Linked DNA regions of Homo sapiens: region 1 is linked to region 2. Evidence: fine-mapped expression QTL. A gene starts in region 2. The other region holds a variant in brackets. All regions are shown on one strand. Distances are from middle to middle.

Region 1 (8,323 bases), 32 kb before region 2:
AATGTTTGGCCTGGGTCCCTGGCCCTCTGCGGGCCTCGGTTTCCCCTCCTGTAATACTTGTAAGAACTCAGCCTCTCCCTGCTCATCTACATGGTGCTGGGGCCACTAAACAGACAGGGAGTGCGGGAAGCCCCAGGTGACGGTGACAGAAACCTGGCACCCCCTAGAAACCTGACCCTGGCCTCACCCCCGGGTCCCCTGGCACCAACACGCTGAGGTCTGCCCACCCCTGGTACCCAGGCCCAGCTGGGTTCATGCAGCTTAAATTTCAGCCTGTGGTGGGTGAAGAGGCGGGGGCTGGACACGCTTCATTTTCCAATTTCTAGAAATAAAAGCTGTGGGGCCATCTATTGTGGAGTGGAAATAAAGCCCATTGCAAAACCTTGTGTGTGAAAAAATAACAATAGCATTTACCTCCCTGCCCGGGGAGAGAAAATTCCAGGGAATACATGGGGCCGGGGAACAAAGAGGCCTTTCTCTCATTCTGGAAAGGTTTTGTGAAGTGTGCGAGTGGCAATTTTAGAATCAGAAAAGCTAATGGAGGTATTTTCTTTCTTTCTTTCTTTCTGAGACTGAGTCTTGCTCCATCGCCCAGGCTGGAGTGCTGTGGTGCGATCTCGACTCACTGCAACCTCCCACTACCGAGTTCAAGCAATTCTCATGCCTCAGCCTCCCGAGTAGCTGGGATTACAGATGCCCGCCACCACGCCCAGCTAAATTTTGTATTTTAAGTAGAGATGGTGTTTCACTATGTTGGCCAGGCTGTTCTCGAACTCCGGACCTCAAGTGATCTGCCCGCCTCGGCATCCCAAAGTGCTGAGATTACAGGCGTGAGCCACCACACCCGGCCCAATGAAGGTATTTCCGAGAACGAAAACGGTTAGGAGGTGGTCTGTTGGAACCTGGAGGTGAAAAGTATAATTTTCTTTCCTTTTTTTTTTTTTTTCCAGACGGAGTCTCCCTCTGTCGCCTGCCCAGGCTGGAGTGCAGTGGCACAATCTCAGCCCACTGCAACCTCCGCCTCCTGGGTTCAAGTGATTCTCCTGTCTCAGCCTCCCGAGTAGCTGGAATTACAGGCACGCGCCACGACGCCTAGCTAATTTTTTGTATTTTTAGTAGAGATGGGGTTTCACCGTGTTAGCCAGGATGGTCTCAATCTCCTGACCTCGTGATCAGTCTGTCTTGGCCTCCCAAAGTGCTAGGATTACAGCAGTGAGCCACCGCACCGGGCCAAAAAGCATAATTTTCTTGGTTTGTTTTCAGGCGATGTTTTCAAGGTTTCTAAGCACCTGTCTCTCCATCGGCAAAAATTACAGCCAGTAGAGCCAGCGACCTGGGCACCTGGGCCAGCCCTGCAGGGAGTGTATGGAGATGCCACTCACCTTGGGAAGATGCACCAGGAGTTACGGTCCACTCTGTCCCTGTTGGCGTTCTCTGAAGAGTAGAAATTTTCCCCTACCCAGACTCTGAGAATGTTCCAAAGACCTCAATTTATATTTGGTATCCACCTGCAGCCACTCAGTCCCTCAGCCCAGCTGTAGCCTCTGGTCACTCCCCCTCCCAGAGGGAGACAGTGTTGAGATTTGACTTCAGAACAAGGGCAGAGCCTTACAAAAAATGAGCTGGGCATGGTGGTGGGTGCCTGTAATCCCAGCTACTCATGAGGATGAGGCAGGAGAATCACCTGAACCCAGGAGGTGGAGGTTGGAGGTGGAGGTTGCAGTAAGATGAGATCACGCCACTGCTCTCCAGTCTGGGCGACGGAGCAAAACTCTGTCTCACTCACTCACTCAATAAATAAATAAATAAGCGAAAATAAATAGGCCAGGCACAGGGGCTCACGCCTGTAATCCCAGCACTTTGGGAGGCTGAGGTGGGTGGATCACGAGGTAAGGAGTTCGAGACCAGTCTGGCCAACACAGTGAAACCCTGTCTCTACTCAAAATAGAAAAATTAGCTGGGCGGGATGGTGAGCGCCTGTAATCCCAGCTACTTGGGAGGCTGAGGCTCAAGAATTGCACGAACCTGGGAGGCGGAGGTTGCAGTGAGCTGAGATCGCGCCACTGCACTACAGCCTGGGCAAGAGACTCCGTCTCAAAAAAAAAAAAAAAAAAAAAATTGGTGAGGCGCGGTGGCTCAGGCCTATAATCCCAGCACTTTGGGAGGTCAAGGTGGGGGGACTTCCTGAAGTTGGGAGTTTGAGACCAGTTGAGGTCTTTGGAACATTCTGAGACTCCGGGTAGGGAAAAATTTCTATCCTCCAGGGTACTCCAACAGGGAGGGAGAGGACTGCAAATTCTGGCGCATCTCTTCCCAAGGTGGCGTCTCCATACACTCCCCGCAACATGGAGAAACCCTCTCTCTACTAAAAATACAAAATTAGCCGGGCGTGGTGGTGCACGCCTGTAATCCCAGCTACTCAGGAGACTGAGGCAGGAGAATCACTTGAACCCGGGAGGTGGAGGTTGTGGTGAGCCGAGATTGTGCCATTGCACTCCAGCCTGGGCAACAAGAGTGAAATTCCGTCTCAAAAAAAAAAAAGATCTTGTTTATTTCTTGGTTTGTCAGTGTCTTCCCCAGATTGGGCGGCTCATGGGGCAGGGCTTGGGTCCCCAGTATGACCTGGCACCCAGTAGGCACTCAGTAAACAGGTGCTGAATAAATGTCCTTGTCTGTGATGGAAGCTTGAACTCCCACTTGGAGAATTATAAACGAAGACTGAAGATCTTTGGACTCTGGGGCAGGAGTGACCCTCCCCCTGCCCCTTCCCCACCCCCCACCGACCACCCCAGAGATTACAGCCTGCCTCAGGGGAATCTGCAGGTGAGGTAGTCCTCACCCCCAGTGACACAGGGCAGGACCTCGCAGGGCTGGAGATGGAGGAGGCCGGGTGGCAGGCACAGGCAGGCAAAGAATGCTGCCGCAGACGAGAATGAATAAACAGGCTCCTTGGATGTCAGAGGCTGGGGGTGGGGGGACACTTTGAACCTCACGCCTGGCTGGGGATGTTTGGACAAGGCAGGCGGCCAGCGGGTGTCATCAGGGCTAAAATTAACCTCCACTTCCCGCTCAGCCCCTCCCCCTGGGCCAGGAGGGAGGCTGGGGCCCCGGCCATCACTTAAGTGAGCGCTGTATGCCGGACAAAGCTCCTTGAAGAAATCAATGCACGTGGTCCTCTCAACAACCCCGACAGCTGCTATCAGTAATGGCATTGTGATTTATCCCCATTTTGCAGGTGAGGAAACCAAGGCACCGAGAAAAAGGGAGGCTGATAGCCACAAAACTCAAAAGCAGCAGAGTCAGGACTCGAACCTGGGATTCAGGGAGTGTGTTCTCACCTGGAGGTCTCCCTGAAAGCCAGGGGAGATGAAAGAGACCCTGAGCGATGAGTCCTTGGCGGAGGCGGGCATGCGGCCCCTCA[T/C]TCACTCTCCCCTAGGGACCTCTCCAGAGGTTTCCAGAGTTACAGTAACTTTGGGTCTTTTTGTGCAAATTCCAAGAGATGCCTGCTGTGCCAGTGACCTGCTGGGGACCTAAAACACCCTCATTGAGCCAGGGAAGGGTCAAGGAGGGGGCGGGGACAGGGCTGGTGGGCTGTGGAAACCTCGTGCAGATGGTGAGATATTAAAATACATCCACTCCACAAAAATTAGCTGGGCGTGGTGACGTGCATCTGTAATCCCAGCTACTCAGGAGGCTGAGGTAGAAGAATCACTTGAACCCGGGAGGCAGAGGTTGCAGTGAGCTGAGATTGTGCCTCTGCACTCCAGCCTGGGCGACAGAGCGAGACTCTGTCTCAAAAAAATTAAAAAAAAAAATTAAAAAAAAGATCCACTCCAGACCAGTGCAGTTGCTCATGCCTATAATCCCAGCACTTTGGGAGGCTGAGGCATGAGAATCGCTTGAACCTGGGAGGTGGAGGTTGCAGTGAGCCAGGATCGCGCCACCGGACTCCAGCATGGGCAACAGAACAAAACTCCATCTCAAAAAAAAAAAAAAAAAAAAGGAATGAATGATGCTGTAAGTATATCCCAAGAATTGCATGGGATATACTTACGCCAAGCCGTGATTCATGATCTATCTGAAATCCAAACTTAACTGGATGTCTTGGATTTTTATTTGCTAACTCTGATGACTTCAGCTGGGTGGGGGTGGGGGGCAGTCCCTGTAGCGGGCAGGTGCTAAGAGCAAAGGCAGGCATTAAGGAGGTGAAATCAGAGCCACACCAGGCGCTCAGGTGGCTTCCAGGACGCGACGCCTTCCTAATGGGCTTCCCAGGTGCCTCCGGGACCAGCCAGATGGAGGAGGCTTCGGGGCCTCCCTGGCCCTCACCCGCTGGGCCAGCCCCTCATCACCACCTCCCAGGTCCCTCCTGCCAGGCTCATTATTCATCTTTAACGGTCACTCGGCAGGGGGAGTGTGGGCTGGGAACACCTGGGACTCCCAGGCTTGCAGTGGGCGGCCTCACTAATGGGGGTGAGGCCCCCATTAGAGAGGCAGTAATGGGTGGGAAAGGGGTCCCGGCCCACCAAGGAGCTGGCCTGGGGCAGGAAGCATCCAATTTGGGGCAGGGGCGGGAAACAGACTTCTGCCACCCCCACCCTGCCATTTCCTTTCCTGTCGAGGCAGGAGTCCAGGGAAGCACCTCTGGATGCCTTCACCCTTCCCAATCTCCACCTGGACGGGGTCCTGCTGGGCCCCCCAGACGCAGAGGGGGCTGCTCTGGCACTCCTGCCTCCCCATATCCAGGCAGGGGTAGGATGGATGCCCCAGCCTTGACCTTCCAGCTTCCCATCTGCCAGACTTGCTCAAGAGAGTGGCTCACGGCTAAGGAGTGGAAACTGACACCCAGAGAAGGATCTAGAACCTCGTACTCTTCCATGCTCTTAGCCACTCCCCTTTCTGTCTCTCCTCTGAGCTATCACACATGTTGTTCCTCTCTCTTGGGCACTCTAGCCTGGATGACAAAGGGGGATCCTGTCTCTTAAAAAACAAACAAACAGACAAGGCTGGGTGCGGTGACTAACATCTGTAATCCCAGCACTTTGGGAGGCCAAGGCGGGCAGATCACGAGGTCAAGAGATCGAGACCATCCTGGCCAAACTGGAAAAACCCCATCTCTACTAAAAATACAAAAATTAACTGGGTGTGATGGCACACACCTGTAGTCCCAGCTACTCAGGAGGTGGAGGTTGCAGTGAGCCGAGATCACGCCATTGCACTCCGGCCTGGTCAACAGAGTGAGATTCTGCCTCAAAAAAGAAAAAAAAAGAAAAAAAAAGAAAAAAAGAAACGGCCAGGTATGATGGCTCACGCCTGTAATCCCAGCACTTTGGGAAGCTGAGACGGGCAGATCACCTGAGGTCGGGAGTTTGAGACCAGCCTGACCAACATGGAGAAACACCATCTCTACTAAAAAATACAAAATTAGCCAGGCATGGTGGCGCATGCCTGTAATCCCAGCTACTCACGAGTCTGAGGCAGGAGAATCGCTTGAACCCAGGAGGCAGAGGTTGCGGTGAGCTGAGATCGCACCATTGCACTCCAGCCTGGGCGACAAGAATGAAACTCTGTCTCAAAAAAGAAAAAAAAAAAAAGAAAAAAAATGTCCCTACACCCCTATTAGAATGGCCAAATCCAAAGCCCTGCCAACAGCAACCCCAAATGCCCCGAACCCCTGAGGACAGGGAGCAACAGGGAGTGTCATTCATTGCCGGTGAGAATGCAGAATGGTACAGCCGCTTTGGAACAGTTTGGCAGTTTCTTATAAAACTAAACATACTCTTAGGATGAGACCTAGAAATGGTACTCCTAGGTATTTACCCAAAGGAGCTGAAAACCTAACATCCACACAAAAACCTGCACACAGATGTTTACAGCAGCATTATTCACAGTTGCCAAGATTGGGAAGCAGCCAAGATGTCCTTCAGCAGGAGAATGGGTAAGAACACTGTGGTGTGCTCAGATGACAAAATTTTATTCAGGCTGGGCACGGTGGCTCACGGCTGTAATCCTAGCACTTTGGGAGGCAGGGGCGGGCAGATTACCTAAGGTCAGGAGTTCGAGACCAGCCTGGTCAACATGGGGAAACCCTGTCTCTACTAAAAATACAAAAATTAGCTGGGCGTGGCGGCACGAACCTGTAGTCCCAGCTATTCAGGAGGCAGGAGAATCTCTTGAACCCAAGCAGACATTGCAGTGAGCTGAGATCGCGCCACTGCACTCCAGCCTGGGTGAAAGAGGAAGACTCCATCTATATCTATATCTATATATCTATATCTATATCTATATAAAATATAAAATTCAGTGCTAAAAAGAAATGAGCTGTCAAGCCATGAAAAGACACAGAGGAACCTTAAATGCATTTTTTTTTTGAGACGGAGTTTCGCTCTTGTTGCCCAGGCTGGAGTGCAGTGGCACAATCTTGGCTCACTGCAAACTCTCCCCCACTCCCTGGGTTCAAGCGATTCTCCTGCCTCAACCTCCTGAGTAGCTGAGATAACAGGCGCTGGCCACCACACCTGGCTAATTTTTGTATATTTAGTAGAGATGGGGTTTTATCATCTTGGCCAGGCTGGTCTCAAACTCCTGACTTCAGGCCTCCCTCCGCCTGCCAAGGTGCTGGGATTACAGGCGTGAGCCAACACGCCCAGCCCTTCAATGCATATTACTGAGTGAAAGAAGCCCATTTGAAAAGGTGACACACTGTATGATTCTAGCTACAGAATATTCCCGAAAGAGGAAAACTATGGAGACGGTGAAAAGGTCAGTGGCTGTCAGGGGCTGGGGGAGGAAGGGACGAACAGGCAGAGCACAGTGGATTTTTAGGGTAGTGAAACTACTCTGCATGATACTGTTAAATGGTAGACATATGTCATTACACATTCATCCAAACCCACAGAACATATGCATACAACACCAAGAGTGAACCCTCATGTCAACTATGAACTTTTTTTTTTTTTTTAGATGGAGTTTTGCTCTGTCGCCCAGGCTGGAGTGCAATGGCCTGATCTCAGCTCACTGCAACCTCCACCTCCCAGGTTCAAGTGATTCTTCTGTTTCAGCCTCCCAAGTAGCTGGGATTACAGGCATGCGCCACCATGCCCGGCTAATTTTTTGTATTTTTAGTAGAGATGGGGTTTCACCACATTGGCCAGGTTGGTCTCAAACTCCTGAGCTCAGGTGATCTGCCCACCTTGGCCTCCCAAAGTGCTGGGATTACAGGCGTGAGCCACCACATCCAGCCAAAAATGACATTTATTACAATTTCTTGGCTGGGCTCGGTGGCTCATGCCTGTAATCCCAGCACTTTGGGAGGCCGAGGCAGGCGGATCACAAGGTCAGGAGATCGAGACCATCCTGGCTAACACGGTGAAACCCCGTCTCTACTAAAAATACAAAAAATTAGCTGGGCGTGGTGGAGGCACCTGTAGTCCCAGCTACTCGGGAGGCTGAGGCAGGACGATGGTGTGAACAGGGAAGGCGGAGCTTGCAGTGAGCCAAGATTGTGCCACTGCACTCCAGCCTGGGTGACAGAGTGAGACTCCGTCTCAAAAAAAAAAAAAAAAATTTCTTCATTGCTGCCCGGTGTATAGTAGCAGAAGACTGGAGGCCAGGACATGTGCTTTCACCAGAACAATGGTCCAGCCTCAAGATGGAATATTACACTGTCCTTACAAAAGAGGGGGAAGTTCTGCACTCGAAGAAAAGATCCGAGATGCATTGTTAGGAGTCAACTACGCTGAGCTGCAAGAAAGTACGGGGAGTGTGATGTTGTTTCCGTGGGGAAAAGAAAATATACAGACATGCTTGTTTTGGCGTGGAACATGGCTGGAAGGAGAAACAAGAAACCGACTAATGGCCTCTGGGGATGGCGTGGGGCTTGGGGAGTGGCTGGTATTTATTCTAAACACCCTCTAGAATCTTTTGAATTCTATGGCATGCGTCTGTCTTACCTCTAAAAGAAGGAGGATAAACTGTAAAATGCATTTTAGAAAGCATACTGAGAAAGGCCGGGCGCGGTGGCTCATGCCTGTAATCCCAGCACTTTGGGAGGCCGAGGCCGGAGGATCATGAGGTCAGGAGATCAAGACCATCCTGGCTAACACAGTGAAACCCCGTCTCTACTAAAAATACAAAAAAATTGGCCGGGCTTGGTGCGGGCGCCTGTAGTCCCACCTACTCGGGAGGCTGAAGCAGGAGAATGGCGTGAACCCGGGAGGCAAAGCTTGCAGTGAGCCGAGATGGCGCCACTGCACTCCAGCCTGGGCGACAGAGCGAGACTCCGTCTCAAAAAAAAAAAAGTGCTGAGAAAAAAAAAATGGAC
Region 2 (8,264 bases):
TGCGCTGTCCTTCTTAGCCCAGGACATTCAGGGTGCTTTGCTTGTTGTCAAACCAGGGAAAGGAGAAAACTCCTGTGCCTTTCTGGGCCAGCCTGTCACCCTGGCCTGGTCGGCAGCCATTCCCCTACCTCCTCACTCAGGAACTGTCACACCAGGAACCGGCGAGGGGCACAGCCTGTTTCAGACCAGAAAGGTCGGAGGCCACCCACGGCCTTCAGGATGGCGCCCGCCTGCCTGCCTGGCAACAGTGACCCCTCAGTGCAGTAACAATGGGCCCATTTTCTCCTCTGGATGAACAAGGAGGGGGGTTGTTTGTACAAAGGAAAGGCAGGCTGGGGCCTGTCTGTGCTCAAGAATAAACCGGATGATTTCCTGGCCTGGGGGCAAGAGGGAGGCCCTCTGTGTTATTTGTGCCTCCTGGTAGGGTCCTGCTGGGCCAGGTAGAATCTAGGGAGTGTAGGCCAAGCACTCTCTACAGCGATTGCATCTAATCTTCGAGTTTCCCTGTAGACACAGGCTTTGTCCTCATTTTACAGCTGTGGAAAGTGAGGCCCAGGCCGGGCGCGGTGTCTCACGCCTGTAATCCCAGCACTTTGGGATGCGGGTGGATCACCTGAGGTCAGGAGTTCGAGACCACCCTGGCCAACATGGTGAAACCCCGTCTCTACTAAAAATACTAAAATTAGCCGGGCTTGGTGGCGGGTGCCTGTAATCCCAGCTACTGAACCCGGGAGGCGGAGGTTGCAGTGAGTGGAGATTGCACCACTGCACTCCAGCCTGGGAGACAGAGTGAGACTCAGTCTCAAAGAAAACAACAACAACAACAACAACAACAACAACAACAACAAACAGAGGCCCAGAGGTGTGAAGGGAACACACTCCGGGTCTGGAGGGCCAGGGCCACTTCCAATTCTGGGGGAAGTTATTGCTGAAATTCTGTTTTCTTTCTTTCTTTCTTTTTTTTTTAAAGAGACAAAGTCTCACTGTTGCCCAGGCTGGAGTGCAATGGTGTGATCACAACTCACTGCAGCCTCAAAATCCTGGTCTTGGCTGGGCCAGTGGCTCACACCTATAATCTCAGCACTTTGGGAGGCCAAGGCAGGTGGATCACCTGAGGCCAGGAGTTCAAGACCAGCCTGACCAACATGGTGAAACTCCGTCTCTACTAAAAACACAAAAATTAACCGGGTGTGGTGGCGCGTGCCTGTAATCCCAGATACTCGGGAGGTTGAGGCAGGAGAATCACTTGAACCCGGGAGATGGAGGCTGTAGTGAGCCGAGATTGTACCACTGCACTCCAGCTTGGGCGACAGAGGGAGACTCCGTCTCAAAAAAAAATCCTGGGATCAAGCTATCATGCTACCTCAGCCTGCCAAGTAGCTGGGACCATGGGCATATGCCACCATGCCTGGCTGCGTTTTTGCATTTTTTCTAGAGATAAGGTCTCATTACATTGCCCAGGCTGGTCTTGAACTCCTGGCCTCAAGTGATCCTCCCGCATTGGCCTCCCAAGAAATTCTTACTAAACATTTACAAATGAGATGCCAAAACAGCACTTCAGTAATAGTGGTTATATTTTATAGTTCTCTACACAGAAAAAAAAATGCTGCTTGTAACACTCATAGACATGAAAGTATTTCTCTGCCTATTTAAATAATTCTGGATTGCAGTGAGCCACCAGGATTTTGGCAGCCAGATGTCACCATGATTTCTCATAAAACTGATGATGTTACATCAGTGGTGGCCTGAATCAAGATGCTGGGATGCCTGTAACCTACAGATTGGTTTCAGACTCCAAAGGCAACTTTTTTTTTTTTTTTTTTTTGAGACGGAGTCTGGCTCTGCCACCCTGCCACCCAGGCTGAAGTACAGTGGTGTGATCTAGGCTCACTGCAACCTCTGCCTCCAGGGTTCAAGTGATTCTCCTGCCTTGGCCTCCTGAGTAGCTGGGATTACAGGCATGCACCACCATGCCCAGCTATTTATTTTTTTTAGTAGAGATGGGGTTTCAAAATGTTGGCCAGGCTGGTCTTGAACTCCTGACCTCAAGTGATCCGCCCACCTCAGCCTCCCAAAGTGCTGGGATTACAGCTGTGAGCCACCGCGCCCAGCCCTGGCCTCTTTTTTTAAGTTATTTATTTATTTTTGAGACAGAGTCTCACTCTGTCGCCCAGGCTGTGGTGCAGTGGCATGGTCTTGGTTCACTGCAACCTCTGCCTCCTGGGTTCAAGTGATTCTCCTGCCTCAGCCTCTGGAGTAGGTGGGATTACAGGCACCCGCCACCATACCTGGCTAATTTTCTTTTTTTTTTTTTGAGACAAAGTCTTGCTCTTGTCCCCCAGTCTGGAGTGCAATGGCACGATCTCGGCTCACTGCAACCTCCGCTTCCCAGGTTCATGCAATTCTCCTGCCTCAGCCTCCCGAGTAGCTGGGATTACAGGCACATACCACCACGCCCAGCTAGTTTTTCGTATTTTAAGTAGAGACAGGGTTTCACCATGTTGGCCAGGCTGGTCTCAAACTCCTGACCTCAGGTGATCTGTCTGCCTCGGCCTCCCAAAGTGCTGTGATTACAGGCATGAGCCACCGCACCCGGCTGACTAATTTTTGTATTTATAGTAGAGACAGGGTTTCACCATGTTGGCCAGGCTGGTCTCGAACTGCTGACCTCATGATCTGCCCGCCTCGGCCTCCCAAAGTGCTGGGATTACAGGCGTGAGCCACCGTGCCCGGCCAGTTTATTTACTTATTTTTAAGAGGCGGGCGTCTTGCTCTGTAACCCAGGCTGGAGTGCAGTGGTGCGATCATAGCTCACTGCAGCCTCCAACTCCCGGGCTCAAGTGATCCTCCTGCCTCAGCCTTCCAAGTAGGTGGGATTACAGGAACACACCACCATGCCTGGCTAATTTTTTGTAGTTTTTGTAGAGATGGGGGGGTCTCACTATGTTGCACAGGCGGGTCTCAAACTCCTGGGCTCAAGTGATCTTCCTGCCCTGGCTTCCCAAAGTGTTGGGATTACAGGCATGAGCCACCGCGCTCAGGCAAGGCAACTTCTGACAATATAATTGTGCTGTGAGCGAGGTAAAGCCAGGCTTGGAGAAGGCTCCGATTGATGATCCTTGGGTCGGGGCGAACAGTGGGTCCTCAAACAGGGCCCACGTTTCAAGTCCTGGAAAACCCACCTATCTTAGCGGGCAGGTATATCCGATGTCTCCGTTGAAGGCCTTCAGTGAGGTGGCTTCGTCTCTTGAGGTTTATGTCCAGGATCAGGGCTGCTCTTCCACTCGGGGTCACAACCTCTGGCTCACCACCTTGTCAGGAGCCAGCCCACTAAGTCACGTTTCAGGCCTGAAAACCAACAACAAAAGATCCGTAAAGACAGAAATCCTGGGACTGGCTCCTAACAACGGCCAGTGACAAGCTTTGTGGCAGTGAGCAGAGGTGTCCCTCAGGCTCAGCTCAGTCTCTGTGGGTTGCAGGACCTGCCCTTGGAGGTGGGCCTGGGTGGGAGGTCTTAGGGCCCCAGGACCTGGGCCACCTGGGGCTTTTTTTTTTTTTTTCTTTTTGAGATGGAGTCTTGCTCTGTCGCCCAGACTGGAGTGCAGTGGTGCAATCTTGGCTCACTGCAAGCTCCACCTCCTGGGTTCAAGCGATTCTCCTGCCTCAGCTTCCTAAGTAGCTCGGATTACAGGCGCCCACCATCATGCACGGCTAATTTTTGTATTTTTAGTAGAGGCGGGGTTTCACCATGTTGGTCAGGCTGGTCTCAAACTCCTCACCTTGTGATCTGCCCACCTCGGCCTCCCAAAGTGCTGGGATTACAGGCATGAGCCACCGCGCCCAGCCCACCTGGGGCATTTTTGTTGCTGTACAATAGAAACAAGTTCTCTATATGTTCCCCAGGCTGGTCCAAACTCCTGGGCTCAAGTGATCCTCCCACCTAGACCTCCCAAAGTGCTGGGATTTCAGGCATGAGCCGCAGTGGCCGGTCAGAACCTGGGGCCCTTTTGAACTTTGATTCCTCAGCAATTTTGTCAGCCCTGGCTCGGGCTGAGAAGCCCCTGTGAAGCCAGAGAGGGAAAGGGACCTGTCCAGGGTCACACAGGAATCATGCGTCAAGCCTCCCCAGCCACGGACTTGTCTCCATCCAGGGCATTTCAGCCCCTGCAGGGCAGTGGCCTGCCCCTCCTCCTTGGAGCCAGGAAGGGATGCAGTGCCACAGGGATCTGGCTCTGTCCCAGGCCCTGTGGGGCTGGCAGTTGAGTAAGCAGTCAGGCTGGGCGCACCCATCCCTCCCCCACTCCCCACTGCCCAGCACAGTGCATTCATGCAGCTGGGCCCCACCCCATCTCCAGAGGCACCTTCCACTAGCAACAGTCTCCCCAGGCACAACACAGCTAACACAAGGCCCCGCAGGCAGGACTCTGGGACAGACGCAGGCCAGGTGAGCATCTGAACAAGGGGCAGTCGGCCAGGGTGGGCTTGCGGGAGTCCCCACCTTGACCTCTCTCCCTTCCAGCTGCCCAGAGCCCAGACCAAGCATGGACGCCGTGGATGCCACCATGGAGAAACTCCGGGCACAGTGCCTGTCCCGCGGGGCCTCGGGCATCCAGGGCCTGGCCAGGTGAGCTGTCCCCTCTCACCTTCCTGACCCCGGCCCCTGAGACCACTGTTCCAACCGTGTCCCCTGCCTCCAGGTTTTTCCGCCAACTAGACCGGGACGGGAGCAGATCCCTGGACGCTGATGAGTTCCGGCAGGGTCTGGCCAAACTCGGGCTGGTGCTGGACCAGGCGGAGGCAGAGGGTGTGTGCAGGAAGTGGGACCGCAATGGCAGCGGGACGCTGGATCTGGAGGAGTTCCTTCGGGCGCTGCGGGTGAGCCCCCACCTCACAGTCAAGGCGTGTGCCCTGGGCATGGGGCGACAGAGGATGCTGAGATGCGGAGACGGGGACTCCTCCCTAAGAGCTGCTGTTAAGAGGCGCCTGCTGGGGCATACAGCCCCAGTGCTCTGCACAGCGTCTTGGGGGTTTGGGTGTGCTACCCACCACCCCCAGTCACCACCTCCTGTCCCAGCCCCCCATGTCCCAGGCCCGGGAGGCTGTCATCGCAGCTGCATTTGCCAAGCTGGACCGCAGTGGGGACGGCGTCGTGACGGTGGACGACCTCCGCGGGGTGTACAGTGGCCGTGCCCACCCCAAGGTGCGCAGTGGGGAGTGGACCGAGGACGAGGTGCTGCGCCGCTTCCTGGACAACTTCGACTCCTCTGAGAAGGACGGGCAGGTGGGTGGCTGCGCGGGGGGCCCCCTCCCCAGGCAGTTCCTCGGCCGTGCCCCCTCACGGCCCTCTGTTCCCAGGTCACACTGGCGGAATTCCAGGACTACTACAGCGGCGTGAGTGCCTCCATGAACACGGATGAGGAGTTCGTGGCCATGATGACCAGTGCCTGGCAGCTGTGAGCAGCTCCGGCTCAGCCCTGCTGCCCTGGCCTGTCACTCCCCACCCCTGCCGGAGACCTCCCTTCCCTGGGCCCCTTCTCTCCTGGGCAGCCACACCACAGAGCGGGGAGGGGCAGGTGGGGGAATGGAGGCTGCAGGACTGGCTAGACCAGGTCCCTGCCGGTCCACCAGGCGGAGGTGGGACAAAGGTCCTAACAGGAGTCACTGGCTCAGGACCCCAGGGAGAAACGCTCTCCCCACCCACGCCATGCTGACCAGAGATCTTGCAGCCCCTGTGGATGCCCCCGCCGAGGTCCCCCGATCCCCGCACCCGGACTGCTGCTCCCTGCCCCTCCCTTGCGGGTCCCCCAGGAAGCCAGGTGACCCCAGGTGGGAGGCTGTGTGTGGAGGCCATCCTGGAAGGAAGTTTAGACCTGCCCAGGTGTGGAGCGAGGGGCACAGGGGCATCCTAACCTCAGAAACTGAAATAAAGCCTTTGAAAAAAAAATCTGTAAAACATCAACCCCCAATCAGAAGATGGCAAATGGGGAATAAAAATAGCAGGTAACATGTCCAGCGGGCCCAGTATCTACATTCTGGTGAGCGGCCCGAGGCTGGGAGCTCTGGGCGGGGGCAGACCGGCGGGGCCTTGCAGCAGGGGTGGGGGTAAAGTGCGGGTGGTGGTGGAGAGAACAGGGCTGTGGCTGGACCCCAGCACTGGTGACACGCTGGGTGGGAGCATGAGGCCCCAGGCTGCTGGAGGTCCTCGCCCGGGGAGGTGGAGGCCGTTCCTGGTCAGGGGCTTCCTGAGGCCCCTGGGGCATGCAGAGGCCAGGGTTTTAGTTAAAAGTTTAATGTAGTTCCCAAATACATTTCATATGACAATCTTACATAAATGTTCCAAAACACATGGGCGTTATCTCGTTGTACTCGTCACTAGCTGGCTAAGGCTTAAAGCAGAGACGTGTGACTGGGTCTCTCGGGAGGGCCTCTGGTTCTTCCCGGGCTCAGGCTTGCTGGGGGCTGGGGGCCAGGGCTCTGGCGACCTAGAGGTGTGGACGGCACAGCTGCAGGAGGCCTTCTCTTAACCCTCCGAGAGTGGGACTGGGAGATTTCCTCTGAAGTCCCAAAGAGGCCCTGTGCCCAGGGGACCTCCTCCTCGGCCTCCCAGGTGGGTGGTGCAAGCTGGCTCTTGGCCATGCTCCAGGCTCGGGTGGGCACAGGCGTCCACTCCAGTGTGCTGCGTGCTTGTGAGACTGCCTGTTCTGGGACCAGCCCCTGGGCTCTTCCACCAAGATTTGGTGAGGGTCCCCCTCTGCCTCTCACAGAAGCCCCTGGCCCTGGACTGTCCTGGGGGCAGGGACACCTGTGGCTGGGGAAGGGATGGCCAACAGCGGGAAGCAGTTTGCGCCTGGTGCCTGATGATGGTGAACCACGTGACAGATGGAGACGGGAGTCAGGGGACCCTGGGGACCCTTCCAGGTCCAGTGACCTTTTCCCAGACAGGCACTCTCCAGGCCTAGGACAGACAGGGCCCCAACTCCTCATCACCCCATGACTTGGCCTGGAGGAACCTGGGGTGGGAAACAAGTAGTCCCCCAACCTCAGAGGCCAGAACCACAGGTGGGGGACAGGGACCTCGACAGAGCTGTGCCTGCTCAACGCTCGAGAGCATCTTAACCTAAGAAACCAAAACAAAGCCTTCGAAAATAAAAAGAAAAAAAGATGTAAAATATACACCCCCAATCAGAGAGGGGAAGTGGGAAATGAAGATAGTAGTTAACAGCACGTCCAATGGGCCCAGTGTCTACACTCGTACGAGCAGCCCCCCAAGCTGGGCGGGGGTCCCAGGCCTATAGTTGGGGAGCCCTGGGCAGGGGCAGAGGGCTGGCTGCTCCCCACAAAGGCAGGGCCCCACAGCAGGGTGGGAAGGGTGTGGGTGGCGGAGAAGCCAGGGGCTCTGGCTGGACCCAGAGGCTGGCGACACGCGGGGTGAAGGAACGAGGTCTCCAGTCCCAGTGAGAAGCCGTGACAAGTCTTAATGTGCCATTTCAATTCAAAGGAGGGGAGGGAGGAAATGTTCTTGTTTGTTCGCTCATCAATATGATGAGGTCTCGTGTCCCAAACCACATTCAGGCAGTTCCCGAGTCTGCTTTTGAACAGGACGTGCGGGTCCAGACTGTGGCCGGCCCAGTGGGGTGTGTGGTTCCCGGCCCCGCACCTGGACGCTGCCGGTGGGGTGGGGGCGGGTGGGCGGGTGGATAGACGGACAAAGCAGCAGCCTGGTGTGCAGCCGGGCTCCCGGCCGCTATGTGCTCCCGGTCGTCTGCCCGTCCCCTTCGTCACCAGCACCTGCAGGGAAGCAGCAGCCCCGCATCAGGATGGAGCCCGCACTTCCCAGGTCTGGCCACCCCCGCCAGGAGATCAGCACTGGATCAAGGATGGCGGGCAGCTCTTTCTATCCCCCCCAGGGTAGGGACCACCCGACTCACCAGCTGCGGTGGCCCCTGAAGGAGCCAGGACATCGTCATCGTCGCTGTCGTCCTCCTCGTTGGATGGGGCTGCCCCAGGCTCAGGCGCGGGCATCTTGGCCTCCTGCTCCTGCTCCACGCGGCTGCGCAGGGCCAGGATGCGGTGGTGCAGGGCTGCATACAACTGACCTGTGTCCTTGGAGCTGGCCTGGGAAGGGAGGAGGGTATGAGACCCCCGGACCCCAGTCCTACCCCCTCCTGCCTTCTGCAGAACACAAGTGCCAAGTCCCAAGGTTCAGAGGTGACACTGCCACAAGGCCTTGTGGGGAGGCCATTGGCCCTGGGCCTGCCGGCCTC

Alleles and levels. Alleles are on the strand shown, and positions count from the first base shown. SD is a standard deviation of normalised expression in the study named.
For the expression in NK cells of the gene that starts at base 4,389 in region 2, allele T in region 1 goes with a lower level than allele C (large effect, 0.84 SD a copy in Schmiedel 2018).

Evidence for each region. PIP is the estimated chance that this variant, and not a neighbour inherited with it, causes the effect.
Region 1: its variant is the best candidate, but not a certain one, in a credible set for the expression of CAPS in NK cells (Schmiedel 2018, PIP 0.50).

What each region holds. Positions count from the first base shown.
Region 1 is chr19:5,877,762-5,886,084 of GRCh38, forward strand. No RefSeq gene overlaps it. Among named protein-coding and RNA genes, the nearest start is that of FUT5, 11 kb to the left of the region's middle. The variant T/C (reference allele first, on the strand shown) is at 3,422.
Region 2 is chr19:5,909,866-5,918,129 of GRCh38, forward strand. It overlaps CAPS (calcyphosine), which reads left to right and starts at 4,389. Exons shown (of 5, transcript NM_004058.5): 1 at 4,389-4,444; 2 at 4,520-4,624; 3 at 4,698-4,875; 4 at 5,075-5,281; 5 at 5,356-6,346. The coding sequence starts at 4,542. The coding sequence ends at 5,457. VMAC (vimentin type intermediate filament associated coiled-coil protein) reads left to right here. Exons shown (of 2, transcript NM_001017921.4): 2 at 1-988. It overlaps RANBP3 (RAN binding protein 3), which reads right to left. Exons shown (of 17, transcript NM_007322.3): 16 at 7,929-8,115; 17 at 6,274-7,788. The coding sequence ends at 7,745.